Linked DNA regions of Homo sapiens: regions 1, 3 and 4 are each linked to region 2. The links come from fine-mapping of genetic effects on gene expression. A gene starts in region 2. Each other region holds a variant in brackets. All regions are shown on one strand. Distances are from middle to middle. Region 1 overlaps MAP3K13 (mitogen-activated protein kinase kinase kinase 13). Region 2 holds the start of MAP3K13 (mitogen-activated protein kinase kinase kinase 13). Region 3 has its middle 42 kb from the start of EHHADH. Region 4 overlaps EHHADH-AS1 (EHHADH antisense RNA 1).

What was found. PIP is the estimated chance that this variant, and not a neighbour inherited with it, causes the effect. A credible set is the group of variants that fine-mapping cannot tell apart.
Region 1: its variant is the best candidate, but not a certain one, in a credible set for the expression of MAP3K13 in whole blood (TOPMed, PIP 0.52).
Region 3: its variant is the best candidate, but not a certain one, in a credible set for the expression of MAP3K13 in whole blood (INTERVAL, PIP 0.74).
Region 4: its variant is the best candidate, but not a certain one, in a credible set for the expression of MAP3K13 in monocytes (BLUEPRINT, PIP 0.66).

What each region holds. Positions count from the first base shown.
Region 1 is chr3:185,386,068-185,391,222 of GRCh38, reverse strand. The region is part of intron 1 of MAP3K13 (mitogen-activated protein kinase kinase kinase 13); the gene reads right to left. Among named protein-coding and RNA genes, the nearest start is that of MAP3K13, 26 kb to the right of the region's middle. The variant C/T (reference allele first, on the strand shown) is at 2,565.
Region 2 is chr3:185,360,568-185,365,722 of GRCh38, reverse strand. It overlaps MAP3K13 (mitogen-activated protein kinase kinase kinase 13), which reads right to left and starts at 2,587. Exons shown (of 14, transcript NM_004721.5): 1 at 2,355-2,587. RefSeq lists enhancers at 1,896-1,955, 2,046-2,135 and a silencer at 2,606-2,755.
Region 3 is chr3:185,293,587-185,298,741 of GRCh38, reverse strand. It overlaps a transcript of MAP3K13 not described here. Among named protein-coding and RNA genes, the nearest start is that of EHHADH, 42 kb to the right of the region's middle. The variant G/C (reference allele first, on the strand shown) is at 2,775.
Region 4 is chr3:185,170,511-185,175,665 of GRCh38, reverse strand. The region is part of intron 1 of EHHADH-AS1 (EHHADH antisense RNA 1); the gene reads right to left. Among named protein-coding and RNA genes, the nearest start is that of EHHADH-AS1, 10 kb to the right of the region's middle. RefSeq lists enhancers at 1-185, 1-456. The variant T/C (reference allele first, on the strand shown) is at 2,764.

The DNA.
Region 1 (5,155 bases), 26 kb before region 2:
AGTTACTGGTTAATGGGTACGGAGTATCAGTTTTACAAAATGAAAAGAGTTCTGTGGATGGATGGCAGTGGTGATGGTTGCACAACAACATCAATGTACTTAATGCCGTTGAACTGGACACTTCAAATGGCTAAAACTGTAAATGTTATGCTATGGGTATTTTATCATAACAAAAAAAGAAAGGGCAAAATCCTGCCTTCAGTATTGAAATTGCAGTAACTGGCAGCTATTGGTATGAACCTTGGACAGACCGGGATGTGTAGGATGGTGCTGTTGATGCAGGTATAAGAAAGGAAAATATCGGCCCAGCGCAGTGGCTCACGCCTGTAATCCCAGCACTTTGTGAGGCCGAGGCAGGCCGATCATGAGGTCAAAAGATCGAGACCATCCTGGCCAACATGGTAAACCCCATCTCTACCAAAAATACAAAAATTAGCTGGGCGTGGTGGTGGGCGCCTGTAGTCCCAGCTACTCAGGAGGCTGAGGCAGGAGAATCACTTGAACCTGGGAGGCAGAGGTTACAGTGAGCTGAGATTGTGCCACTGCACTCCAGCCTGGCGACAGAGCAAGACTCTGTCTCAAAAAAAAAAAAAAAAAAAAATTCTGACTGTAAAGTGATTTCAAAGAAACTTAGGAGATAAAGCTGAAGGTTGAAAACATTCACAAGAATAAAATCCTGCTTTGTAATGAGTAACAATAAACTATTCTCTAAGGGTTGTCTATTAGAACCTCCATCTTTGCGTAGCCTTTAAGAAAAATGTTATTTTCTCTATGAAACTGTGCTCACTTGCCAAGGAGGGAGGCTGCGCAGTGGCACAGAAAAGAGTTTGGACCCTGAAGCCAGACAGTCTGAAACTGAATGCTGACTCCACCTTGATGAATTTACTCTCTTTGTGCTTTGGTTTCAACTGGAAATTAGAGATAATAACAATAGCACCCACCACACAGAGCTGCTGTGAGAATTAAATATGTAAAGCACTGTGAACAGTGTCTGGCACACACTAAATCCAATAGAGATATTAGCTATTACTCACACCCTACGCAATGGTGCTTATAGTATGCTCTGGGAACTCCTGGGGACCTCTGAGATCTTTCAGGGGGTCTGTGAATTATTTACATAATAATAAGATATTATTTTCCTGTTTATCACATTCTCTCACAAGTAGACAGTGGAGATCCCCCGTGGCCACTATATACCATTTGATATCACAACAGATTGAAAGCAGAAGCAGATATGAGAATCCAGTTATCATCTATTAAGTCGGACATTAAAGACATTTGCAAAGACCTCTTTTCACAATACCACTCTCCTCACAAAAAATTGTGAAGGTTTGGAAACTGTAGTTCTTTTTTCATGAAAGAAAATGTTCTTTATGTTACTGTATGATAGGTTTATTATTTTTAAAATAAATTAATAAATACTTAACAAATTTTTTGTTTTAGTTTCTAATATGGTAAATATAGACGATATAACTCACATAAACAAAAGCCCTTTGGTTTGGGGTCCTCATTTTTTTTTTTTATCGGTCCTGAAACCAAAAAGTTTGAGAATTGCTGCCCGACTAAAATACGGCGTATGTGTCAATCTCTCCAAGTAGACTGTGAATTCTTGTGGACAGGAATACTATTGTATTTTTTTTCTTTTTCTTTTCTATCTTTTTTTAAAAAAAAATTTCCCCCAGGTATCAACTGGCAGTCTTTTTTACATGGTTAGACAATAAATGAAAAGAAAGAAGCTAATATATATTAGCAACTATCATTTGTTCAGGGCTTAGTATTTGTGATGCATTATGCTCAGACTTTATGTACCTTATCTCATTTAACCCCTGTTAGGTTCTGTAATTATTCCTATTATATACATAGGAGAAACTTAGAGACTTTAAATAACTTACCCAAGGCATACAGCTAATAAATGGAAATACTAAGACTCAACTAGCATTGTCTCACTTTAGAGGCCAAACTTGTAACCCCTTTGAAAGAATGGGATTGTGTACAGAAATTTGGAAGGCTATGATTAGGCAAGACAAATCATTTACAAAGCATGGTGCTCATAGTATCTATTAAGTACCTAGTTTACCTTTACCAGAGGTTTGTAATTCTGAATGACTCTTGGATGTTCATATTGTCAATTAGAGCAACTTTTATTTTGTTTAACGCAGAGAACATACTCTCATACACTGATGTCTAAAAGGTCTTTTCTAAGAAGGTCAACTCCCTAACCAGAATGTACTGCCTCTGCTGCTCAGGGAAGTAAAAAAGAGGTACCTCTGAAAGAACGAATATGACACAAATTTTAAGGTGTAACATTTAAAAAACAATGTAACAATATTATGAAAATTTGAGAAATGAATTTATTTCTGGTTCTATTCTATCCATTGGTCTGTGTGTCTGTTTTTATACCAATACCATGTTGTTTTGGTTACTATGCCTTTGTAGTGTATTTTGGAGTCAGGTTTTGTGATGCCTCCAGCTTTGTTCTTTTTGTTCAGTATTGCTTTGGCTATTCAGGGTCTTTTGTGGTTCCGTATGAATTTTAGGATTGCTTCGTCTATTTCTGTGAAGAA[C/T]ATCATTGGTATTTTGATAGGGATGGCATTGACTCTCTAGATTGCTTTGGGTAATATGGCCATTTTTAACAATATTAATTCTTCCGATCCATGAGCATGTGATAGCTGTCCATTTGTTTGTGTTCTCTTCAATTTTCTTCTTCTTTTTTCTTTTTTTGAGCCAGGGTCTCACTCTGTCACCTAGGCTGGAGTGCAGTGCTGTGATCATGGCTCGCTACAGCCTCGGCCTCCTGGGCTCAAGCAATGCTCCCATCTCATCCTCCCGAGTAGCTGGAACTACAGGTGCATGCCACCACATCCGGCTACTTTTTGTATTTTTTGTAGAGACAAAATTTTGCCTCGTTTCCCAGGTTGGTCTGGAACTCCAGGACTCAAGTGATCCACCTGCCTCAGCCTCCCAAAATGCTAGGATTACAGGCATAAGTTATGGTGCCTGGCCTCTTTAATTTCTTTTATAAGTGTTTTGTAGCTTTCTTGTATAAGTCTTTTACCTCCTTGGTTACATTTATTCCTAGTTGGGATTTTTTTTTTTTTGGTAGCAATTGTAAATGGGATTGTTTTCTTGATTATTTTTCAGCTAGTTTGTTGTTGGTATATATTTTGTGTAAACTACTGATTTTTGTGCACTGATTTTTAAACTTTTTTAACCACCTAAGTTCTTGTCTCATGTATGTTGATTTTCGTATCCTGCAACTTCCCTGAATTTGTTAATCAGTTCTGTGAGTTTTTTAGTGAAGTCTTTAGGATTTTCTATATATAAGAGCATGTTATCTGCAAAGAGGAAAAATCTGACTTCCTCTTTTCCAATTTGGATGCTGTTTATTTCCTTCTTTTGCTTGATTGCTCAGGCTAGGACTTCCCATGCTATGTTGAATGAGACTGGTGAAAGTGACCATATTGTTCTAGTTCTTAGAGGAAAGGCTTTCACCTTTCCCCATTCAGTGTGATGATAGCTGTGAGTTTCTCTCATGTGGTCTTTATTATGTTGAGGTATGATCCTTCTATGACTAATTTGTTGAAAGTTTTTGATCATGAAGGGATGTTGAATTTTATCAATAATTTTTCTGCATCTATTGAGGTGATCATATGGTGTCTTAGTCCATTTTGTGTTCTTAAAAAGGAATACCCGAGGCTGGGTAATTTATTTTTTAAAAAAAGGTTTCCCTGGCTCCTGATTCTGATGCCTCAAAAAGTTCAAGACTGGGCATCTTCATCTGGTGAGGGCATTAGGCTGCTTCCACTCACGGTGGAAAGCAAAGGGAAGCCAACTTGTGCAGAGATCACATAGAGAGAGAGGAAGCAACAGAGAGGTGGGGAGGTGCCAGGCTCTTTTTAACAAGCAGCACTCACAGGCACTAATAGAGTGAGAACTCACTGATCCGAAAGGAAGAGCATTAGTATATTCATGAGGGATCTGCCCCATGACCCAAACATCTCCCATTAGGCCCCACCTCCAACACTGAAAATCAAATTTCAAAATGAAATTTGGTGGGAACAAATAAACCATATCCAAACTATGGCATATGTCCTTCATTCTGCTGATGTTGATGTGATGTATCACATTTATTTATTTTTCCTTTCTTTCTTCAACTTTTATTTTAAGTTCAGAGATACATGTGCAGGATGCGCAGGTCTGTTACATAGGTAAATGTGTGCCATGGTAGTTTGCTGCACACATCATCCCATTCCCCAGGCATTAAGCCCAGCATCCACTAGCTTATTCTTCCTGATCCTCCTCCCTCTCCCACCCCCTGCCCTCTGACAGGATTCAGTATGTGTTGTTCCCCACCATGTGTCCATGTGTTCTCATCATTTAGTTCCCACTTATAAGTGAGAACATGTGGTATTTGGTTTTCTATTCCTGCATTAGTTTGCTAAAGATAATGGCCTCCAGCTCCATCCATGTCTCTGCAAAGAACATGATCTTATTCCTTTTTATGGCTGCATAGTGTTCCACGGTGTATATGTACCACATTTTCTTTATCCAATCTATCATTGATGGGCATTTAGGTTGACTCCCTGTCTTTGCTATTGTGAATAGTGCTGCAATGAACATACGCGTGCATGTGTTTTTAGAGTAGAGTGATTTATATTCCTTTGGGTATATACCCAGTAATAGGATTGCTGGGTCAAATGGTATTTTTACCTCTACGTGTTTTAGGAATAGCCACATTATCTTCCACTAGTTTACACTCCCACCAACAGTATCAGAGCATTCCCTTTTCTCCACTACCTTGCCAGCATCAGTTGTTTTTTGACTTTTTAATAGCCATTCTGATTGGTATGAGGTGGTATTTCATCATGGTTTTGATTTGCATTTCTCTAATGATCAGTGATGTTGAGATTTTTTTGATATGTTTGTTGGCCACATGTATGTCTTCTTTTGAGAAGTGTCTGTTCATGTCCTTTGCCCACTTTTTAATGGGAATGTTTGTTTTTTTTCTTGTAAATTTGTTTAAGCTCCTTATAGATGCTGAATATTAGACCTTTGTTGGATGCATAGATTGCAAAAATTTTCTCCCATTCCGTAGATTGTCTGTTTATTCTGTTGACAGTTTTTTTTGCTGGTATCACATTTATTGATTTGCATA
Region 2 (5,155 bases):
CCCATATTCTTACAGAATAGTAACACAGAGCAAGGGTGTGATTTTTTTATTTTTATTTTTTTGCAACAAACTGTTCTTGGGGAATGTTCTTTATTTTAATCAAAATTGCAAGATCAGGCTGCCACCTGGCAGAATTGGTCATCTTGGCTATCTTGAACTATTTGAGCTCTCCAAGCACTTAATTCAGCTGAAGCACACAGAAAGAGGATAGGCACACAACGCAAACCAAACTGACCGGTTTTGCCATCTGAAGTATGGTTGTTCTGTCATCTACCAGTGGATGTGGCCTCTGGCCCTTAGGAACCATTCTTTTGACAGTTCCCCAGGACATGGCTCTGGTTTGACTGACTTTGTTTACTAAATAAATTAATTCCTACTTCTGGAGTAGCTTCAGTTTTTAAACAGAAAGCCATCTATTGACAGTCACTGATACACAGGATTTTATTGTTTGATATTAAACAATTAAGAGTTATTGTTTTTTTCCCTACAAGTACACTATACATGAAGATAAATATAATGTAGAATACAGTCACTAGGAGTGGGGAGAGAGGGGGATTCTATATCTGCTCTGTGCCTTAAAGTAACAGTTTTACTTTAGTAAATCCAAAGTACATACTGTATTTCTTTCACAGAAATAAGGCTCTCTTTTGGCAAAATGTGCATCAAAGACAGAGTCTGATGAACATTTTTTAAGATGAGTTTGATTATTAAACAACATTTTTTAAATATCCTAAGAATTTGACCTTTCGTGCTAGTAGACTTCAATAATTTAAAATTACTTGGAAATTGCTACTTTCAACAAACTCTCTGAAGATATACAAAAAAGGAAAATGCTGAAATAAGTCAAGATGTTTACAAATATTATGTCTAAAATGTTATCTCATTTGTTAAACCCAGAAAATAAAAAATAATAAAATATGAAACCATAATTGTCCGAGTATAGGACAAAGATCTGATTTAGAATCAGGCAGAGGTTTTCCCTCTATTACTCCAGCAAGTTCAAATGTACTCAGAAATACAAAATGATTGACGGTAATATCAAGATGAGAAACAAAAGACAATGTTACATCCTCAGGTATGATAAGTTTGAAATTAGATGAGTTTACAGTTGGAAGATTCATTAAGAACAACAATTCAAAAGATATTATAGCCATAATTTAGAAGTCTTGCTTCACGAGAAAAGATAATATAAAAATCTAAAAATTAAGTATTGATTTTACAAGGTAAACATGGCAGCCTGGATTATAAGAAATATCAGGCATTTTGCTTTCTCAGGAGAAAGAACAACTGGGTACATGCTGCAGACTGGCATATAAATCGCTCAAAGTGAAGCAGTTGGGAAATGCTGTCAGATTATTCGGGTTGAGGAGCTGCCCCAGGGGCAGAACATGTCACAATGTCACATCCCTCTTCTTTACTCTCACAACTTTCACCAGAATAAACAGACCCTTGGAAAACAAATTCAATCACAAATAGTAACTTTTTGTTAAAACTACAGTAGCAAACTACCAAACCAACTTTATACATGGAACATATCAGAACTTTTCCATGTTTCCCCAACACAGTGGAATAAACTATTTTCAGCTAATAAGTTCATCTTAGGAAAACACTCATGTGCATTTCTATGCAATATAATTGTGGAACATTGTAACCACTTCTTAGTTTTCATTAGAGGATATTGAAAAACCCAAGTTTAAGGATAATTCCCCCTTTCCCTCGAATGCAGCTTTTTAAGTTTTTGACACTATAAAGTGTAGAGAGTGACATAAAGAAGAGCTATGAATATATATAAATACACCACTATGGCTCCCGTCATAAGAGCTTTTGAAAAATGGTTGAACAAGTATTCATCTTCACCAAATTGCAATCGCAAGATACTGACTGTTACACAATATGAAACAAAGGCAAGGTGAAGGGTGAGGAACGGCAGAAAGGACGGTCGCAAGGAAGACAAGTGCCCCACAGGATAGAACCTGCTCTGTCTTGCGGGCCCCGCTTTTCTCAGCACCTTTCTGGTGTTCTGGGCTTTTCTGCTAATACCATCCACATCATCTCTCAGAGAAATGAATCTCCCTTTAAGGAAAGCCAAGCAGGCATCCGAGGTAACGTGCAGAACCGTAAATGAAAAATGTCCACGTCTAGCAGGCAGACAAGCAAAGGAAAACCAGCTGTCAGTTTCAGAGGCTCCTAGCTGTAACGGGGTTTCGGGTTTCTCTCCGCCTCTGTCTCTCTGTCTCTCTCACGGTGTCGCCCTCAATAATATCAGCTTTCTAATCACCTCAAATCACACATTCTCTGTCTGTCCTTGTGAAATAAATACTGAAGAAACAGGAAAAACAGAGTGCAATACTCACAACAACGAAGAATTCCTACACATGCTGTTCCATTTTCTTGCTTTGAAAAGATGTAAGGTGAATTTTAAAAGCCTTGCAGAATTGGAAAAATAAAGGGGAGGGGGATTCCACCCACACAATCCTCCAGCCCACCGCAAAGGAGCCCAAAGGCTTGCTGACGTCACAGATTCATGAATGGATGTAAATTGGGCTGGTTTAGGATTCCGCACAGACTTCGCTGTGGTGTGTGTCATGAAAAAAAAAAGAGGGGCGGGTCCAGAGTAGGCCCAGCCAATAGGCTTCAGGCAGACATGGCCTTCCTTCTTTTAGAAGGAATCTGGTCACAGAATAAACAGAGCCCGCCAATCAGGCATCTGCCACTGCCTTAAGACAGACTGGCAGCTTGAGTGTGTGTGTGTGTGTGTGTGTGTGCGTGTGTGTGTGTGTGTGTGTGTGTGTTTCAAGCTGTGATAGTCATAAAAACATTATTATTGTTATTGAATGAAGGAATCAAAATAGAATTTCTGTGGAATCAAGGATAACAAAAATGCATATAGAAGAAATCCCATCTTTTATTCATTAGAACTCTTTTCTTCAACCCTTTTCTTACTGTTCAGCAATATGCCTGATGCGATCAAAACAAATCAAAGTCAGGAAAACCATTTCTAAAACTAGCAGACTAGTGGACATGTATGCCCTGCTCACCACGACTTGTAAAAGCAAAATTGTCGGGACTTGTAAAAGCAAAATTGTCGGGAAGAACGCATGGGAACAATAATCTAGTAACTAAGAAAACAGACATATGGAAAATAATATTACACGAATGTAGCTGTTTTGCACAGCAGTAACATCTTGCTGACCTTCATGATGTATCAAAAGTGGATATGGAAGAAAAATTTACTGCTACTTTTAAGTAGGGTACAGTGTTTCCTCATTGGTTTATTCAACTTCTGGCAGTCGATTAAGACACAGCTCCAAAAGGGCACTTAATGAAACTTTGAACAAATTTTGGTTTCAGTAAGATGTTTTATTATTAACAGCAAAAACAGCTGTATTAAATTCACTCAAGAGGCATCTCTTTCTTCTTTATTTTTACACTTTTCAGTTATACAAAATTGGAGATGAATATATTTATTGTCCCTACTCCCCATCACTACACTTCACAATGACTAATACTTGACAAATACTGATCATGATTTTTCTGAACTTGGGAAATGGCCTCAATCCTTGAAACTAGAACGATCGTGGTTAATATAAAGCCTCAGTTATGAGGTGTCCAGTGACCAAGAACATTCTGAACAGAGATCTGCTCTATTTCTCAATCAGATTATTTATACAACTGTGAGAGAAGGAAAGTGGTGGCCTGTTTCTAAGTGGTTCTGGAGGGTCTAAACCTGACCACTAGTAAGTATTGCACACTTCTTAGCTCATTTGGAAAAGGAAAACTTTTCAGGATAATTTTACACACAGCAAAGATATTCAGTGTACTGTCTATATTGAAGCAATAGAATATCGTTGGCAAACAACATAGTTAACAAACTTCTCTAAAGGAGCTTATTGTGGAATATCACTACAAAAAAGATAGACCAAAGAAGTTTACACATGTAACATGGGAGTGCTCAAGGCAAATACGGCATTGGTACACGCCCAGTAGGCCTCAGTGTACCACATTATTTAAGAACGAACATGCAAGGCACGGTGGCTCATGCCTGTAATCCCAACACTTTGGGAGGCCAAGGTGGGCGGATCACGAGGTCAGGGATCGAGACCATCCTGGCTAACATGGTGAAACCCCGTCTCTACTAAAAATACAAAAACAAAATTAGCCGGGCGTGATGGTGGGCGCCTGTAGCCCCAGCTACTCGGGAGGCTGAGGCAGGAGAATGGCGTGAACCCGGGAGGCGGAGCTTGCAGTGAGCCGAGATCTTGCCACTGCACTCCAGCCTGGGTGACAGAGCAAGACTCCGTCTCAAAGAAAAAAGAAAAAAAAAAAACAAAAAACGAACAAATGGAAAGCTGAAGAATATACATCTCTATTTAACAACAACCAAAGCCAATCAGGATACATTAAAAGAATCAGATTTATGGAAAACATTTTTTTCTTCCAAAACAATACAGACTAACTAATGGAAAGAGGCAAACTTTTTGTGGACTATGTCAATAAAATAGCCAAGAAACATCAATTTGTGTGTGTGTGTATATATATATATAATATATACACACACATATAAAATCTGTATATATGTATATGTATATATGTGTGTATACACACACACACACACACACACACATATATATATATACACATACACATATACATATAAAATCTGAGGTCAGGAGTTTGAGACAAGCCTGGCCAACATGGTGAAACCCCATCTCTACTAAAAATACAAAAATTAGCTGGGCATGGTGGCACACATCTGTAATCCCAGCTACTCGGGAAGCTGAGGCATGAGAATCGCTTGAATCTGGGAGGCAGAGGTTGCAGTGAGCTGAGATCACACCACTGCACTCCAGCCTGGTGACAGAGTGAGACTCCCTCTCTCAAAAAAAAAAAAAAAAAAAAAAAAAGCTAAAGCTGTTGTAGAAGTTTTTCTGTAAGTTTTGACAGCAACAAAATTACTAATAAGTCCACTATGGATGGGAGTAGTCTCTGAAGCAATTCAACAAAACAGGGTCTATAAATGCTTCTAATAACAGTCACCTAAGATTCTTGGCTCAATATATAACCTGGAAAATAAAAACTTGGGGGCTTTATGGACTTGCCACTTCAGTAAGATGATAAACTTGGCCTCAGTTAGCATGCTTCCTGTACCACAGGA
Region 3 (5,155 bases), 67 kb after region 2:
ACTTCACCACTTTGACTGAAAATAAGATCTTTCTGTTTCTACATCACTTATGCTGGAAGATACGGTGACCTTTGCATTACTTCTGTCTCTTCTCAGGTTTTCTCCCGTTACTCATCAAATGCCAAAATGAGGAGATACTTGACTTCTTAAAAAATGAACATAAAGTTCCATCAAATAAATAAAATATGTAAAGTAAATTCAATAAACATATTTTAAATTAGTTAGGATAATGTATACTTACACATTAAATATAACAACACAAATTTAATCAGCAACATGTTATACATAATGCTTTTGGTAAAATACTTTCCCTTTGAGTTGTCCATTTTAATGGTTCTGTGGTGTTCTTAATGTTTCTCCTCATTTCCTTTCCTTGAAATACGTGGAACATAAATGGTTTTTTTAAAACATACATATTTCCATTATTTCCCTAAGTCTATGGTTCATTTAGTTTTCCTCTTTCAACCCTGAAAAAAATGGTGTGGGACAGATGTGACTTCAAATGTAATATTTATCTCTAAGTAAAAGATAGAAAAGAGAAAGCTTTCTAAGAAAGAAGAAAAAAATCAAATAAGAACTAGCACATTTTGCAAGTGGAACACCATTTAGCTAAATATTCTTATCTTTTGCCTCAAAAATACCAGCTTTGTTTAGTGAGGTACTGCAGAGTTTACTGAAAGGCCTGTAGTCCGTCGCCACGTTCCCTGCTTTATCTCTGGCCTGCAGACATGGCAATAATTCTCAGACTCAGTTTTAAAAGACAAAAAAAAAAAAAGACAGAATTAGGAAACTATACATACCATGAACAGAAAGACATGTACTGTACAATATCTATTAATTGTATGCACACAGAGAGAGAGAGAGAGAGTAGCTCTTATTTTGGTTACTGTATTGGTGAAAAATTTCTTGAAGTCTAATTCATCTAACTCCCAATCTTCCTACCCTGTTTAGTTGTGACTACATAAGAACCTGTTTCTTTTTCTTTTCTTTTCTTTTTTTTTTTTTTTGAGACGGAGTCTCACTGTGTTGCCCAGACTGGAGTGCAGTGGCACGGTCTCAGCTCATTGCAACCTCCGCCTCCTGGGTTCAAGAGATTCTCCCACCTCAGTCTCCCGAGTAGCTGGGATTACAGGCATGTGCCACCACACCTGGCTGATTTTTGTATTATTAGTAGAGACAGGGTTTCACCATGTTGGCCAGGCTGGTCTCGAACTCCTGACCTCAGGTGATCTGCCTGCCTTGTCCTCCCAAAATGCTGGGATTACAGGTGTGAGTCACTGCGCCCAGCCAATAACCTATTTCTAAGTTGCCAATTATCTACCTCAAAAGGAAGGAAGCCACAACCACTGGACTCTCATGCTACCTCATGATTAGAGGAGGAGAAACTGGGGTAATTGATGTGCTGGTTGGTATTTTTCACAGCTTTCAAAAATATCCAATTACTAGGTTTAAATCAACCTTGGGAATGTCCTGGACATGACATAAGCAGAGGTAGTAGCTGTGACTACCATCTCTCAAATGTAGCAGAGCCTTTGTAATGGACAGACTGTGTACATTTTATGCCAATAGGAAATTTCCTAATACAGAAAGCAAGTTTTTTTTTAGAAGAGTAACTGCACAATGTCTTATAGTTAAATAGGTTTTCTGGGTTTCTATGTAAGACTCAAATATCTGTGACCTGTGCCAGAGAACAAATTCTTGATTCCAGTTCAATCATTTCTGAGCAACCTAACTCTCTAATAAGTCAAATTTATAACATGACTTTAGCCACTGTGCAGGACCTTCTGTACATTAACTTTACCCACTTTAATACTATTACATTTGCTTTGTCTTATTCTCTTTATGTCCCCATCCTACATACTATATGCATTTTAAAATATTTTTTAGAACAAGGCAGGATATAAATAAATTTAATTAATTCATCTTGTAAAATCATCTTGAAATATTAAGTCCTCATAATTTGGGCTACAGGTCTCATTGTCCCAAATATGCATCTCTGTGAGTACAGGTTAAATTCACTCAACTAATAAATAAGTTCTAAGGGCCCACCATGTGTCAGTCACTGTTCTCAACACTGGGGAAAATACCTATGAAGAGAATGCCAATCAGAGATAAGTACAATGGAGAACAGTAAAGCAGAGAAGACTAGGGATGCCATGTAGTGAGGTTACAATTTTAAATAAGATGGTCAAAGAGGGCCTCACTGAGGTCACATAACCTGAAGGGCCTAAAGAAGATGAGAGATTAAACCAGATAGATATCTAAGGCAAGGGTATTCCAGGCACAGGGAATATCAAGTACAAAGGTCCTGAGGCAGAAGGAAGCTTGGCATTTCTAAGGATCAGCTAAGAGATCTGGGCTGGGTAGTCCAATAGATGGTAGAGAGGTAAGGAGAGAGCAGAGGCATATCAGGTAAGGCCCTGGAGACCATTATAAGGACTTGGGCTCATACTTGGAGTGAGATGAGAAGCAACTGAAGGGTTTTGGTTTGTGTGTTTGAGACAGGGTCTTGCTCTGTTACCCAGGCTGGAGTGCAGTGGCACAATCATGGCTCACCGCAGCCTGGACCTCCTGGGCTCCAGCAATCCTTCCACCTCAGCCTCCTGAGTAGCTGGGACTACAGGTGTGTGCCACAATGCCCGGCTCATTTTTAAATTATTTTTATTTTGTAGAGACTGGAGTCTCACTGTGTTGCTGGTCTTGAACTCCTGGCCTCAAGCAATCCTCCTGCCTTGGCCTCCGAAAGTGCTGGAATTGCAGTCGTGAGCACTGCA[G/C]TCAGTCAAGAGGAGGGTTTTGAACAGAGGAAGTTAAACAACCCAGAACTTACAGTACTGAAATATCTAAGTGAAGAGTGGTGGCTGTGGGAAGAATCAGTTGACAAATATTTACTGAATCCCTACTATTTGCCAGGAAATTTCCTAAACACTGGGCATACAGTGTAATAAAACATGCACCAGTCATTGCCCTCCTGAAGGTTGTCTTGTAAGATTATTAATAAATGATTATATATGAGAAATAATTACAACTATGCTAGATGTGAGAAAAAAATGGGTGATTTATGACAGAATGATAGAGAAGGGAGGTCTAATCTAGTCTGAGATATGGAGGAAGGCTTCTTGGAAAAAATAATATTTAAAGTGAGACTGGTAGTATGAGTAGAAGTGGGTTATGTGAAGAGGAACAGGAGAGAGGAGGGCATTCCAAGCAGAAAGTATCTGCTCTGCAAAAGCCCTAAAGAAGGCTGGGCGCTGTGGCTTACGCCTGTAATCCCAGCACTTTGGGAGGCCCAGGTGGGTGGATCACGAGGTCAGGAGTTCAAGACCAGCCTGGCCCACATGGTGAAACCCCATCTCTACTAAAAATACAAAAATTAGCCAGGCATAGTGGCGGGCGCCTATAATCCCAGCTACTTGGGAGGCAGAGGCAGAGAACTGCTTGAACCTGGGAGGCGGAGGTTGCAGTGAGCCAAGATTGCACCACTGCACTCCAGCCTGGGCGACAGAGCAAAACTCCGTCTCAAAAACAACAACAACAACAACAACAAAAACAACAACAAATACCCTGAAGAAAAAAAAATGGCATTGTCAGAGAATTGGAAGACCATTATGGCTTGAGCTTAGTAGACAAAGAATGATTGAAGATTTGGGGCTGAATTCTAAGGGCAATAAGATAATAAGAGTTTAGATTGGAGGACCAAAAAGATTAGAATTGTATTTTTAAAAATCAGTCTAAAAGCAATGAGATTAGAGGGGGGAGGAGTAAATACAAAAAACCATTGAAGAGTTATTGCAAAAATGTAGGCGAAGATGATAAAATAAATAAGGATGGACATGGAAACAGGTGAATAATTTGAAAGATATTTAGGAAGTAGAAAAGACAGAATTTTGCAATGGATTAGTTTCATGAGGGTTGTGGAAGAAGGTCAGGGATAGCTGAAGTTGCTTAACTACTCTCTTGAACTTTCTCATAGGTAGATCCTACTTCCTACATGGAGAGGTAGTAATACCAATGCCATTTTTTGGCAAAGGAGTGGAGGAAGAAGGAACAACAAAATGTCAATTACATATAGTAATGAGCCTTTTATGCCACAGCTGCCAATTGTCATAAACATAACAGCCTCGATTTATACAACCTTTGCAATTCATTCTGTCTCCATTAATGCAAGAAGTTTGGCCATGGCTGTTCAGGAAGAATGAGGCAGTTGGATTCTACATTATACATCTTCTGATAAATATTCATATTGCTAGGACTATGTACATTCATATAATTTATAAGCAGAGAAAAGTAATACCTTGTACAACCTTCTATCACAGTTTAAATAAGTAATTCCAGGGCACTAAAGACAGCATTTCAGTACACTAAAGCACTAAAAAATTAGTTCTTCATCAATGAATTGGAAAGCACAACCATGCCCTATTGTTCACGGACACTATAATAAAGTCACCTATGCTAACCTAACCAATGCTATCATCAAAGAGGGAGATATCTATTTTTAGGAGTAACAGTTGAACAAGTTAATGTCAGTGACTTATTTATCTTAAATCATTAAACTAAAGATAAACCTAGTTACTCAGAGAAAGAAAAGAAATGGCATTTTCTTTTCCAGAGACCATCAAATTCCCAGTCATGCTAACTACATTCTCGATAGCCTCTCTCTACTTAGTCCTCAAGTAATGCTAAAAGGAGGGTTTTGTTTGCCATTAGGCCAGAAAGATACAAGTAAAAAAAAATTAAAAAGCAAAATATTTGACACAATCCTTCTGCTAGTAGAGGTTGAAGCAACCTTTTAAATGCTATTATCAGAATAGATATTAAAATATTAAATATCCATAAGGCATATAGGCTTTCTCTGTGCTACAAAATAAAAAATATTTCAATTACACCATAAGTCAAATTGATATTAAATTCTTTGTCACGAGTAGTAGCATAAAGTGAAAAAAAATGCTGAGTCTCCTAGGAATCCAAATGTGTAGGAAGGCATTAGTGCCAAAATGGTACTCCAAGAACAGCAACTGATGGGCGGGCACAGTGGCTCATGTCTGTAATCCCAGCACTTTGGGAGGCCAAGGCGGGTGGATCGCTTGAGCTCAGGAGTTCAAGACCAGCCTGGGTAACATGATGAAACCCCATCTCTACAAAAAATACAAAAATTAGC
Region 4 (5,155 bases), 190 kb after region 2:
AGGGAGTGGCTCTAGCACAGACACCCCTTTCTTCTTCCTCGGAGGGAGCAGGAAGTTGCTGAGTGAAGCGTTGTTTCTCAACCTCTCCACCCCCCAGTTATCAGAGGCAAGGCTCTGTGTGGCCGTCTGTCTCCTGTTCCTGGGCAGGGCTGGGCCAGAGGACAACACCAAGATAAATAACCCCAGCATACTAGGGCCCTCTTTTACTGCTTGTGGACTTAGGCAACCTGGCAGTGCTAGCCAGATTCCAAGGCTAGAGGCTGGCTTAAGCGAAAGGGGCAATTTGGGGAGTGGTCTTGCTCTGATGCCCCAGAGCTGTTTGTTTTTGTGCCTCTAGTTAGTAGAATATTTGGAGCCATAATTGCCAAATGTGTAAAACCACACCGTTTTTGGGTTAAAGAGAGACAGACGAGAGAAAGAGACAGACACAAAATGCATCTTTAATATACCTTAAAATATGTGTATATGCATAATAATAATTGTCCTTTTTTCTTTTGTTTTCCTAAAATCAGAACAGGACAGCACACTCTCTCTGTCCACCCATCAAGTTCATCATCTGTGGATCACTGTATTTATCATTGAAAAAACATACACCACCCCTAATATTGCAGAGCAGCATTCTAAATATTCTGCTTGTATTAACTCATTTAATTCTCACAATACCCCTATGCAGTAGGCATTCCAGTATTATTATCACCGTTTTACAGATGAGGAAACTGAAGCACAGAAAGATTACTTTTCCAAGGACACACAGAGATAAACCCAAGTTTTTTGTTTGTTTATTTGTTTTTTGTTTTGTTTTTGATTTTGTTTTTGTTTTGAGACGGAGTCTTGCTCTGTTGCCAGGCTGGAGTGCAGTGGCGCAATCTCGGCTCACTGCAACCTCCGCCTCCTGGGTTAAAGTGATTCTCCTGCCTCAGCCTCCTGAGCAGCTGGGACTATAGGTGTGCGCCACCATGCCCAGCTAATTTTTGTATTTTTAGAGATGGGGGTTTCACCGTGTTGGCCAGGGTGGTCTCGATCTCTTGACCTCGTGATCTGCCTGCCTCGGCCTCCCAAAGTGCTGGGATTACAGGCATGCACCACTGTGCCCAGCTGTTTTTTTGTTTTTTGGTTTTTTTTTTACTGTAAGTTGTGGGATACATGTGCTGAACATGCAGGTTTGTTACATAGGTATACATGTGCCATGGTGGTTTGCTGCACCTATCAACCCGTCTCTGGGTGATAAACCCAAGATTTTAACGTGGGCAATCTGGCTCTAGAGTCTATGCTACTAATTATTATGCTATGCAATTTGTACTTATTTATAAATCACACACATATGCTACTGTAATAACATTAGTATATACCTCATGAAACACAAACATATACGGACATTTTAAAAGGCAATGTTAAAAATAAATATAAATATAATTTCTGATATTTTCTTCCTTGACTCCAATAGATTGTCTTGTAATCCCCCATTTTAGAGACCACTGTTTGAGAATTTGGAGCCCTGTGGAAAGAGCCTGACCACGACAGGCTCAGGGAACATGAGCTGTACCACTTCACCATTAATACAGTGAGCTTCCGATACTTTCCAGCACCATGCTTCCTTTTTAACACAACCAAGTTTTGCAGATGCTCATATAAGAGTTGTACCTTTAGGCCGGGTGTGGTGGCTCACGCCTGAAATCCCAGCACTTTGGGAGGCCGAGGCAGGCAGATCACCTGAGGTCATGAGTTTTAGAGCAGCCTGGCCAACATGGTGAAACCCCGTCTCTACTAAAAATACAAGAATTAGCTCCAGATGGTGGTGTGCACCTGTAATCCCAGCTACTCAGGAGGCTGAGGCAGGAGAATCACTTGAACCCGGGTAGTGGAGGTTACAGTGAGCCAAGATCGTGCCATTGCACTCCACCCGGGGCAACAAGAGCGAGATTCCGTCTCAAAAAAAAAAAAGGGGGGGTTGTACCTTTTGTATCTGTTGATTGAGAAAAGACACTATAATTGAAGCTATTGAGTAACACGTGCTTTCAAATGACTTGATTAATTACAGCGGCACCTACATAATGTAAAAAGTGGCCCACACATATGCAAGTCACATTAATTTTTCAGTCTACGTAGAATACTCAGTATATATATGGATTTGCTTGCTTCTTCTGGGTCCCCGGCGTGCATAACCTTTGTAGATGCTGGAATTTGTTAGTGTGGTGGAAAGATTTTGAGTTCACAAGCCAGTCAGAAATGAGTTTGAATTCTAGTCTCACATATGCGACCTGAAATAAACAACGAATTTTTTCCCTGCCTGAGTTTCCTTGTTTGTAAAAGGAGGATAATACATCCTTGCTTGTTTGTTGTAAGCACAGCTATATATAAAAAGTCTCGGATACATATTGACACAATAAATGGCAGCCATTATTCTCAGAAGCAGATTTACTCCGAAGCTAGCAAAGCTTACAGCTCTTGGCAGGGGCTCTTTCCAAGACTTCAGGAAGGCCCTGGCAATTTTGTGATTTGTAATCTTGTACTCTTTTCCTTAAAAAGGGCCCCTAAAATTATATACCTGTCAGGTTCTCATTGGATCCGCCGAATTACTGCTGTGCTATGCTTCCACTTAAAGGGAATATCTGAGAAACGAGGTACTATAATGACAGGTAAAGTGCCCCGCCCCTCTGATTAGAGCCAATGATGGGAGTGCATGTGAATTGCTGAGGCAGGTTCAGAGCCAGTTCCCAGAAAAAGGGTTTAAACAGCTACCCTCCAAGGAGAAGTGAAAGTGAT[T/C]GCACTAAGTATTCAGCCTCATGGGGGTGGGGGTGTGGAGAGAGGGGCACTGAGAGGGAGCTGGGATGCTTCCTGACTCCCCTAGGCTCTGCGTAGCAACCAACCATGTCAGCAGGGGTGCGCTTCCCATGTGCCCTAGTCAGACTCAGAATTAAAATCTCTTAGTTGGGCTCTGAATAATGTCCTAAACTGGTGGTTCTCAACTCTGGATGCACAGAAGAACAATCTGGGGAGTTCTGAAAAAATACTACCCCGGAGATTCTGACTGACTTGGCCCAGGGAACTGGTATTTTTATGCACTCCTCAGGAAGTGTCAATGTACAGTCAGGTTGGGGAACCACTGCCCAAACTAGTACGTGCAGTTTCAGTAGGACAGACAGTGGAGTCAAAGCTAGTGCCCAGCAGTGGGAGAGACAGCAGCAAATGGCACAAATCTTTCTTAGGACTCCCGTGGGGCAGGCACTGTGCTTGGAACAAAGATGCCTAAGAGCTCTGACTGTCGCTGGCACACAAGGAATTTACAGTCTAATCAAGGTGTACCGGCTGCCATGATTCTTACAAGAGGGACTCTGAGCTCAGCTAGGATGTGTCAAGGAAAGCCTCCTGGAGTGACTTGAGTCATACAGGATAAAGTAATTATCCAGATGAAGAAAGGAAAAGTGGGGTTTAGGGATATGAATTACGATATTGCATTGAGTGTATTGACTGGGCTGGGGCTGTGGGAATGACATGAAATTCCAGATTAGTAGAACGAAAAAACAGTGAGGCAATGAACATTCATCAGCTAATGTAAAGGAGTAAAGAGACATTGGACCATGGGGCAAGCTAAAGGGGCAGCTGGACTGGCTGGAAATGTGCCAGAGGAGCAGCCCTGGGAGCAGAGGGTGATGGCACAGCTCTTGGGTGACCAGTGAGAACCACAAGTCCATCCAGCCCAGATGAAGCGCCTCTGCATCCCAAGCTGGAGAAGGAGGGGCCACAGGGCTCTCGACAGACCTAGCCCAAGAGGATGATAGAATGGGAAGGAGGACCACTTTCACTGGGATTGATTGCCTTTGGGGTCACATGAAAGGTCCATGAACTTTCCTTCTCAGGCACAGCTCTGGGAGGGCTGTTTGACAAATAGGGAGATTTCAGGCCATCCTGAAACTTAGCCCATCTCCACTGGCCTGGCACTGCTGTTTCCAAAACTACTTCATTTAGGAGCTCAACAATTTGTGTTTACTCTCAATAATATGTTTTGTTTATAAGTTTTTTCTTCTTCTTTTTTTAACATTTTGAACATCCATCTTGTCTATGATACTGCCCTGCATGCTTCCATAATCAGAAATTTGTTTCCCTTCTTCCACTGGGAACATGTTTTCCTGTTTGTGTTTCTAGAGCATTTAACCAGTTGGTTCTAGTTTATATTTAACACTCTGACTCATGATAATAACTGTTTACTATGTTCCTGGCATTATGCTAAGTGCTTTATGTACAATAACTGAGTTATTCTGCAAAAGTACCCTCAAGATACGTATTATGGGTCCCATTTTACCACTAAGGAAAAGGAGACAGAAATTTTAAGGAACTTGCCAAAGACTATCTGAGTCCAAAATACTGTTCTTAATTGCACTCTCTCTCTCTCTCTCTATCTATATATATACACACATACACATATATGTATAAATATATATGTAAATGCTTCTTTATACCAATAGCATTTTGTCATGATTCTTTTCCATACTGTACTCCTTCTGTTTTGTCATATATTAAGCTCTTAGCGTTTGAATTAATGTGTTAAATCTGTTTATTTCAGATTCAGTAACTTATTCTATTTTTAATTTAATGCTCCACTGCTTTTATAATGATGACTTTGTAACATATATTAAAATTTAGTACAGCCAAAAATATACAATAGTGTGAATCAATAATCATTACATCCTCTAAAATAAGTATTCTTTGGCATTCTTCTTGCTATTATCCAGCTGAATTGCCCTCTTATTTTGTTAGACACTTGAAGTTAACCTGCCGAGGCTTTAATTGGTAAATCTACATGTTGCCTAGGAAATACTATTTTATTCACTTTTCTAATCAGATATGGAACTTGATTTATTAACAACGTCCTCTGTAATTTCTCTGAACAAACCTTACTATAAGTTAAATCAACCCCATGTGTTTAATCTGTTTTGGTTGTACTAGCAACAATAAAATTTATTTTTTGTATTTCCTTATTAGATATCAGTTTCATATTGGCATATATACATAAAACAGTATACGTACATAGAATATATAATAGATACACGCACATACACACATGTATGTACATACAAATGTTTTAGAGGTATTAAGGTTAGTCCTGCAACTGAGCTCATTACTTTCAGTAATTTTCAGTTGATTTCCTTAGATTTCT